Homo sapiens: one gene and its partner. The protein of the gene in region 2 interacts with the protein of the main gene of each other region in a biochemical or structural test. Each region holds a gene or a part of one and is shown on either strand. Other genes may lie near its edges. The genes, in order: DBNL and MAP4K1.

Region 1 (3,825 bases), on a different chromosome or scaffold from region 2:
AAAATTATTGTTAACTATAATTTCCCTTCTGTACTATTGAATACTAGAATTTATTCCTTCTATTTAACTGTACTTTTGTACCTGTTAAGCAACTTCTCTTCATTTTCTCTCCCCCATGCCCTTCCCAACCCCTGGTAACCAGCATTCTACTCTCTCCCTCCATGATACCCACTTTTTTAGCTCCCACATGAGTGAGAACATGCAATACTTGTCTTCTGTGCCTGGCTTATTTCCCTTAACATCATGACCTCCAGTTCCATCCATGTTGCTGCAAATGACAGGATGCCATTCTGTTTTATGGCTGAATAATATTCCCTCATGTTTATATACTAAATTTTCTTTACCCTTTCATCCATTGATGGACGTTTTGGTTGATTCCGTATCTTGGCTATTGTTAATAGCGCTGAACTTCAGAGTTGGATATATCCCCAGCAGCTGGATTGCTAGATCATATGGTAGTTCTGCTTTTAGTAGGACTAAAATACTGTTTTAAAAACCATACTGTTGTCTAGGCGCGATGGCTCACGCCTGTAATCCCAGCAGTTTGGGAGGCCAAGGTGAACAGATTACCTGAGGTCAGGAGTTCAAGACCAGCCTGGCCAACATGGTGAAACCCCGTCTCTACTAAAAAAATACAACAATTAGCCAGGTGTGGTGGCGGGCACCTGTAATCCCAGCTACTCAGGAAGCTGAGGCAGAGAATCTCTTGAACCTGGGAGGTGGAGGTTGCAGTGAGCCGAGATTGTCCACTGCACTCCAGCCTGGGCAACAGAGTAAGACTCTGTCTCAGAAAAAAACCCAAAAAACCATACTGTTTTTATAATGGCTGTACTACTTTACATTCCTACCAACAGTGTATAAGAATTTCCCTTTCTCCACATCCTTGCTAGCATTTATTTTTTATGTTTTTTATAATAGCCATTCTAACTGTGGTGAGATGATAGCCCGTTATGGTTTTGGTTTGCATTTCCCTGATGATGGTTAGTGATGTTGAGCATTTTTTTGTATGTAGTTAGCCATGCGTATATCATCTTTCGAGAAATATCTGTTAAGGTCTTTTGCCCATTTTAAAATCAGATTATTATTTTTTTGCTACTGAGTTGTTTGAGTTCCTTATATATTCTGGTCACTAATTCCTTGTCAGATGGATAGTTTGAAGATATTTTCTCCCATTCTGTAGGTTGTCTGTTTACTTTGTTGATTGTTTCATTTGCTGTGCAGAAGCCTTTTAGCTTGATGTAGTCCAATTGGTTGATTTTTGCTTTTGTTGCCTGGGCTTTTGAGGTCTTAACCCAAAAAAAATCTTTGCCCAGATCAATGTCCAGGGGCATCTACCCAGTGTTTTCTTTGAGTAGTTTCATAGTTTCAGGTCTTACATTTAAGTCTTTTTAACCCATTTTGAGTTTTTTTTTAATATGGTAAAAGATGAAGATTTAGTTTCATTCTTCTGCATATGGATATCCAATTTTCCTAGCCCTGTTTATGAAGGAGACCGTCCTTTCCCCAGTGTATGTTCCTGTCACCTTTGTTAAAAATGAGTTGGCTGTGTGTGTGAGTGCTCTGTTAGTTTCCATTGTTGTGTCTGTGTTTATGCCTGTACCATGCTGTTTTGCTTACTGTAGTTTTGTAGTTTAATTTGAAATCAGGTAGCATGAAGCCTCCAGCTTTGTACTTTTTGCTTCAGATTGCTTTAGCTATTCAGGGTCTTTTGTGGCTTCCAGATGGCATTTAAAATTAGTTTTCATTGATTAGAAGGAAGGCCTTTGATGCAAATTATGCCTGGGCTGTCTATTGATACACAGCAGGGAACAGCTACAGAAGGAACCACTGGATAGCACAGTGGAGGTCAAGGGTCTCACGTGAACTGGGACAAGAATGAGGGGTTTGCTCCAAGTTGGTTTGTTTGAGCCCTTGAGGGGAACTCGTGCCTCAGTTTTCAGCAGCCAGACAGGTGCCTTCTAGTTTCCTGATTCCAGTCCTGTGTGGTATAGTAGTGGCCCGTGCTGTATGGACTGACAGGAGTTTGGCCCATCTCCTGGGCTTGCAAAGCCCTTCTTTCAAGTGCTGCTCCTGCTGCAGGGGGCCCATGTGACCATCAACGCACGGGCCGAGGAGGATGTGGAGCCTGAGTGCATCATGGAGAAGGTGGCCAAGGCTTCAGGTGCCAACTACAGCTTTCACAAGGAGAGTGGCCGCTTCCAGGACGTGGGACCCCAGGCCCCAGTGGTGAGTGCTGCTTGCCCATCGCCAGCCCTTTTGTTGCTCAGGGCCTGAGGCAGGGGGCCAGGAATATGCACTTCCCAGCACCCGGGCTGGCTGGGCCCATGCCTGCTTAGTTTCTGCAGATGGTAACCCCTGAGCTGTGGTGATTGCCCACTGACCAGATGAGCAGGAATAGCCCTCTGACCTTGCCTAGGGGTTGGACTAGCTGTTCTGGAGCCTTCCTCTGGAGCCCAGCCTGTGTGGTCAGAGTGGAGGCTCTGCAGCATGCATGGCTATGATAGTCTGGCTGCCCTCAAGGTCATGGCACTGGAACATCTTGGGCTGCCCCTGGAGGTAGCCACCGTGGAGGAACTAAAGGAGGCATCAAGGCGGAGCCTGAAACCAGAGCAGGCCCCTTGGAGTCACGGGAGATACCTGTGGGCCTGTGGCCCCAGTGCTGTGTGGAGCTGATGGCTGGGAGCTGCGTCCGCATGCGTGTGGTTGGACGTGATTCCTTGGATGCTCTTGTGGTAGTCAGCTGTCTGAGTGCCCCTGGTCAGAGGCCTGCCTCAGAACTGCCCAATGTCTAGGAGTCTGCAGGTGGGGTATGGGGGCCTTTCTTGCCCTGGCCCCCATCCATGAGGGCGAGAGACCACCAGAGACCCCTCTAGTGTTGTCTGGGATTGAGCATCCCCCTTGGGGCAGTGTCCTGGGCTTCTTTCAGGTCATCTTGGTGTGTGTCTCCTTGAGGGTCACTGGGCAGTGCTCTGCTGCCTCTGCTGGGTCCAGTCCTAGCAGCACTCACCTGTGCTGTCGCAAGTTTAGCGTATTCTCTCCTTTGGTGCCTGTGGGCCTGGCCTTCCACCTGGGTCCAGGTCTCTAATGAGTGCTGTCCCCTACAGGGCTCTGTGTACCAGAAGACCAATGCCGTGTCTGAGATTAAAAGGGTTGGTAAAGACAGCTTCTGGGCCAAAGCAGAGGTGAGTGCTGCCCCGGGGCATGCTGGGCACGTGGGAGTGTTCTGCTTGCTGTGGCTCATCTTTCCTCACAAGTGAGCTCATGCAGCATCCACTCTCCTTGGTGCCCATTACAGATGGTCACACTGAGGCTCGGGTAAGTTAAGCCACAAGGCTAATGATCGACTGGCTCTGGTGCCCGTCTTTGGCCATGTGCCTAAAACTCAGTCCTGGGCAGGGGATTAGGCTGAAGTGGCAGCATAGGGCTGAGCGGGCAGTGGCTCTCCCTGCAGAAGGAGGAGGAGAACCGTCGGCTGGAGGAAAAGCGGCGGGCCGAGGAGGCACAGCGGCAGCTGGAGCAGGAGCGCCGGGAGCGTGAGCTGCGTGAGGCTGCACGCCGGGAGCAGCGCTATCAGGAGCAGGGTGGCGAGGCCAGCCCCCAGAGGTGAGCCAGAGGTGGAGGCTGGCCTGGGGGACCCACCCTGAGGCATTGCTGGGCACCTGCTCCATCCCATGGAGGCGAGGAGGACTAAGGGGTGTGGCATGAGAAGCTGTGACTGTGCCTCAGCTGTGCCCCACCCGGCCCTTCCCAGCAGGACGTGGGAGCAGCAGCAAGAAGTGGTTTCAAGGAACCGAAATGAGCAGGTAAGATGGGGGTGCTCTACTT
Region 2 (3,825 bases):
CTGACCTTGTGATCTGCCCGCCTCGGCCTCCCAAAGTGCTGGGATTACAGTCATGAGCCACCGCGCCCAGCTACTAAAAATTTAAAAAATTAGCTGGGCGTGGTGGCACACACCTATGGTCCCAGCTACTTGGGAAGCTGAGGTGGGAGGATTGCTTGAGTCCAGAAGTTAGAGTCTTTTGACAAGATCCATCAAAACCTCCATGAGTCACTACCACATATGCAGTTGCCCAAAGAGCCAAGATCTCAAGAAATTTTACCTCTCATAAATGGAGATGTACAAAAAGAACATCTCTTTATTCAGGAAGTTTCAGTGTTTTTACGTACATGCATAATGCCTACACACGTAGTCAGTGTTGTGATAATGCACCTTTGTGGCATCAAATTTGCCAACAAATGCATAAAATGAATTAGAACTCTCTAAAGTCTTTTTTTTTTTTTTTTTTTTTTTTTGAGATAGTATCTCGCTCTGTCGCCCAGGCTGCTGGAGTGCAGTGGCGCGATCATGGCTCACTGCAGCCTTGACCTCGGAGACTCAAGCAATCCATGCACCTCACCCTCCCTAGTAGCGCTTGGCTAATTTTTTTTTTTTTTTTCTGAGATGGAGTCTCACTCTGTCGCCCAGGCTGGAGTGCAGTGGTGCTATCTTGGCTCACTGCAACCTCTGCCTCCCCAGTCTAAGTGATCCTCCTGCCTCAGCCTCCTAAGTAGCCATGACTACAGGCGCCCACCACCACGCCCAGCTAATTTTTGTATTTTTAGTAGAGACGGAGTTTTGCCATGTTGGCCAGGCTGGTCTCAAACTCCTGACCTCAAGTTATCTGCCAGCCTCGGCCTCCCAAAGTGCTGGCATTACAGGCGTGAGCCACCGCGCCCGGCCCAGCTTGGCTAATTTTTAAAAAAATGTTTTATAGAGGCAGGGTCTCACTATGTTGCCCAAGCTGGTCCTGAACTCCTGGGCTTAAGTGATCCTCCCACCTCGGCCTCCCAAACTGGTGGGATTACAGCCGTGCCTGGTTGGCTACCGGCTAAAAGTATGTATAATTTATACCTCCAGCACTGGAAATGATTCAAAGATGAAATGCATAGCATAATTAATCATACATATATACATATACATATATACACACACATATACATGTATATGTGTGTATATATGTATACGTGTATATATATGTATATGCATATATATGTACATGTGTATATATGTATATGTGTGTATATATGTATATGTGTATATATGTATATGCGTATATATGTACATGTGTATATATGTATACATGTATGTGTGTGTGTATATGTATGTGTATATATGTATATGCGTATATATGTACATGTGTATATATATGTGTATATGTATATGTGTATATATGTATGTGTATATATGTATATGCGTATATATGTACATGTGTATATATGTATACATGTATATGTGTGTATATATGTATATGCGTATATATGTACATGTGTATATATGTACATGTGTATATATGTACATGTGTATATATGTATATGTGTATATGTATATGCGTATATATGTACATGTGTATATATGTATACATGTATATGTGTGTATATATGTATATGTATATATGTATATGCGTATATATGTGCATGTGTATATGTGTGTATATATGTATGTGTATATATGTATATGCGTATATGTGTACATGTGTGTATATATGTACATGTGTATATAAGTATATATGTACATGTGTATATATGTATATGTGTATATATGTATATGCGTATATATGTACATGTGTATATATGTATATATGTATGTGTGTATATATGTATATGTGTATATATGTATATGCGTATATATGTACATGTGTATATATGTATACATGTATATGTGTGTATATATGTATACATGTATATGTGTGTATATATGTATATGCGTATATATGTACATGTGTATATATGTATATATGTATAGGTGTGTATATATATGTATATGTGTATATATATGTATATGCGTATATATGTACATGTGTATATATATGTATATATGTATATGTGTGTATATATATGTATATGTGTATATATGTATATGCGTATATATGTACACGTGTATATATGTATATATGTATATGTGTGTATATATGTATATGTGTGTATATATGTATGTGTGTGTGTATATATATGTGTGTGTGTGTGTGTGTGTCTATATATATATGTATATGTGTATATATATATATGCTGGCCAGGCACAGTGGCTCATGCCTGTAATCCCAGCACTTTGGGAGACCAAGGCAGACGCATCACCTGAGGTCAGGAGTTCGAGACCAGCCTGGCCAACATGGCGAAACCCTGTCTCTACTAAAATACAAAAATTAGCCAGGCGTGGTGTTGTGTGCCAGTAATCCCAGCTATTCAGGAGGCTGAGGCAGAAGAATTGCTTGAGCCCAGGAGGTGGAGGTTGCAGTGAGCTGAGATTGCATCACTGCACTCCAGCCTGGGCAACAGAGTGAGACTCCATCTCCAAAAACAAAACTGACAGCTGGGAGTGGTGCCTCACGCCTGTAATCTCAGCACTTTGGGAGGCTGAGGCAGGTGAATCACATGAGGCCAAGAGTTCAAGACCAGCCTGGGCAACATGGCAAAACTCCATCTCTACTAAAAATACAAAAATTAGCTGGGTGTGGTGGCACACGCCTTTGGTCCCAGCTACTCAGAAGGCTTAGGCATGAGAATCAGTTGAACTTGGGAAGCAGAGGTTGTAGTGAGCTGAGATCATGTCATTGCATTCCAGCCTGGGCAACCGAGTGAGACTCTGTCTTAAAAAAAACAAATGCTGATGATTTAGGATAGTGGAGGAAAAACTAAAAAAAGAAATATATAACAACAACAAAAAAAAACAAAAACAAACTGAAAAGAAAACTCAATGTATGAAAAAGTGTATTACAGGGATAGATTATGGGAAATTGCACCAAGGTAAGAGGCAGGATTTGAACCTTGGCACTCTCGCTCCAAAGTCGTAACCACTGCCCCTTCCTGTTCCCTGCTCTCTTTGCCGGATCTGCTGCCTGGCCCCGCGGCGACCTGCCCAGGGATGTGCCCTTCTCGTAAAGTTGTTCAATGGCTGCCCCCTCCGGATCCACAGCACGGCCGCCTGGACACATCCCTCCACCAAGGGTGGGCATTCTGGAGGGTCAAGGAGATCCTGTAGGGAATGGGAGAGCAAAAGTAGGGGTGGGGAGAAGCCTAAGGAAGGCACAAAGGCAGGGACGGGGAGGAGCTTAATGGAGTTGGGGTGTGGCCAGGCTGAAACAGGGGCGGAGCTTGTCCTTACACTCAGGATTTGGTGATCAAAGATGCATAGAGGGCAGCCAGGTGTGGTGGCTCACACCTGTAATCCCAGCACTTTGGGAGGCTGAGGCGGGTGAATCATTTGAGGTCAGGAGTTCAAGACCAGCCTGGCCAACATGGTGAAACCCCGTCTCTACTAAAAATACAAAAGAAGCTAGGTAGGCCGGGCATGGTGGCTCACGCCTGTAATCCCAGCACTTTGGGAGGCGGAGGCGGGCGGATCATTTGAGGTCAGGAGTTTGAGACCAGCCTGGCCAACGTGGTAAAACCTCGTCTCTACTAAAAACACAAAAATTAGCCAGGCGTGGTAGCACGTGCCTATAATCCCAGCTACTCAGGAGGCTGAGGCAGGATAATTGCTTGAATCCAGGGGGCGGAAGTTGCAGTGAGCTGAGATCATGCCACTGCACTCCAGCCTGGGCAACAGAGCAAGACTCAGTCTCAAAAAAAAAAAAAAAAAAAAAAAATGGGTAGAGGGATGAGTTGGAGAGTGAAAGTAGGAATATTGGAA

What was found.
Region 1: the proteins of MAP4K1 (region 2) and DBNL form a complex in vitro, tested with the Homo sapiens proteins (one study listed by BioGRID).

Annotation. Positions count from the first base shown.
Region 1 is NC_000007.14:44,054,678-44,058,502, forward strand, and holds part of DBNL (drebrin-like protein), read left to right. Parts: intron 1-2,079; coding exon 2,080-2,226; intron 2,227-3,104; coding exon 3,105-3,182; intron 3,183-3,451; coding exon 3,452-3,603; intron 3,604-3,751; coding exon of another isoform or gene 3,752-3,754; coding exon 3,755-3,803; intron 3,804-3,825. UniProt on the Homo sapiens protein: Adapter protein that binds F-actin and DNM1, and thereby plays a role in receptor-mediated endocytosis.
Region 2 is NC_000019.10:38,600,756-38,604,580, reverse strand, and holds part of MAP4K1 (mitogen-activated protein kinase kinase kinase kinase 1), read left to right. Parts: intron 1-2,886; exon of another isoform or gene 2,887-3,055; coding exon 3,056-3,140; exon of another isoform or gene 3,141-3,168; intron 3,169-3,825. UniProt on the Homo sapiens protein: Serine/threonine-protein kinase, which plays a role in the response to environmental stress. Appears to act upstream of the JUN N-terminal pathway.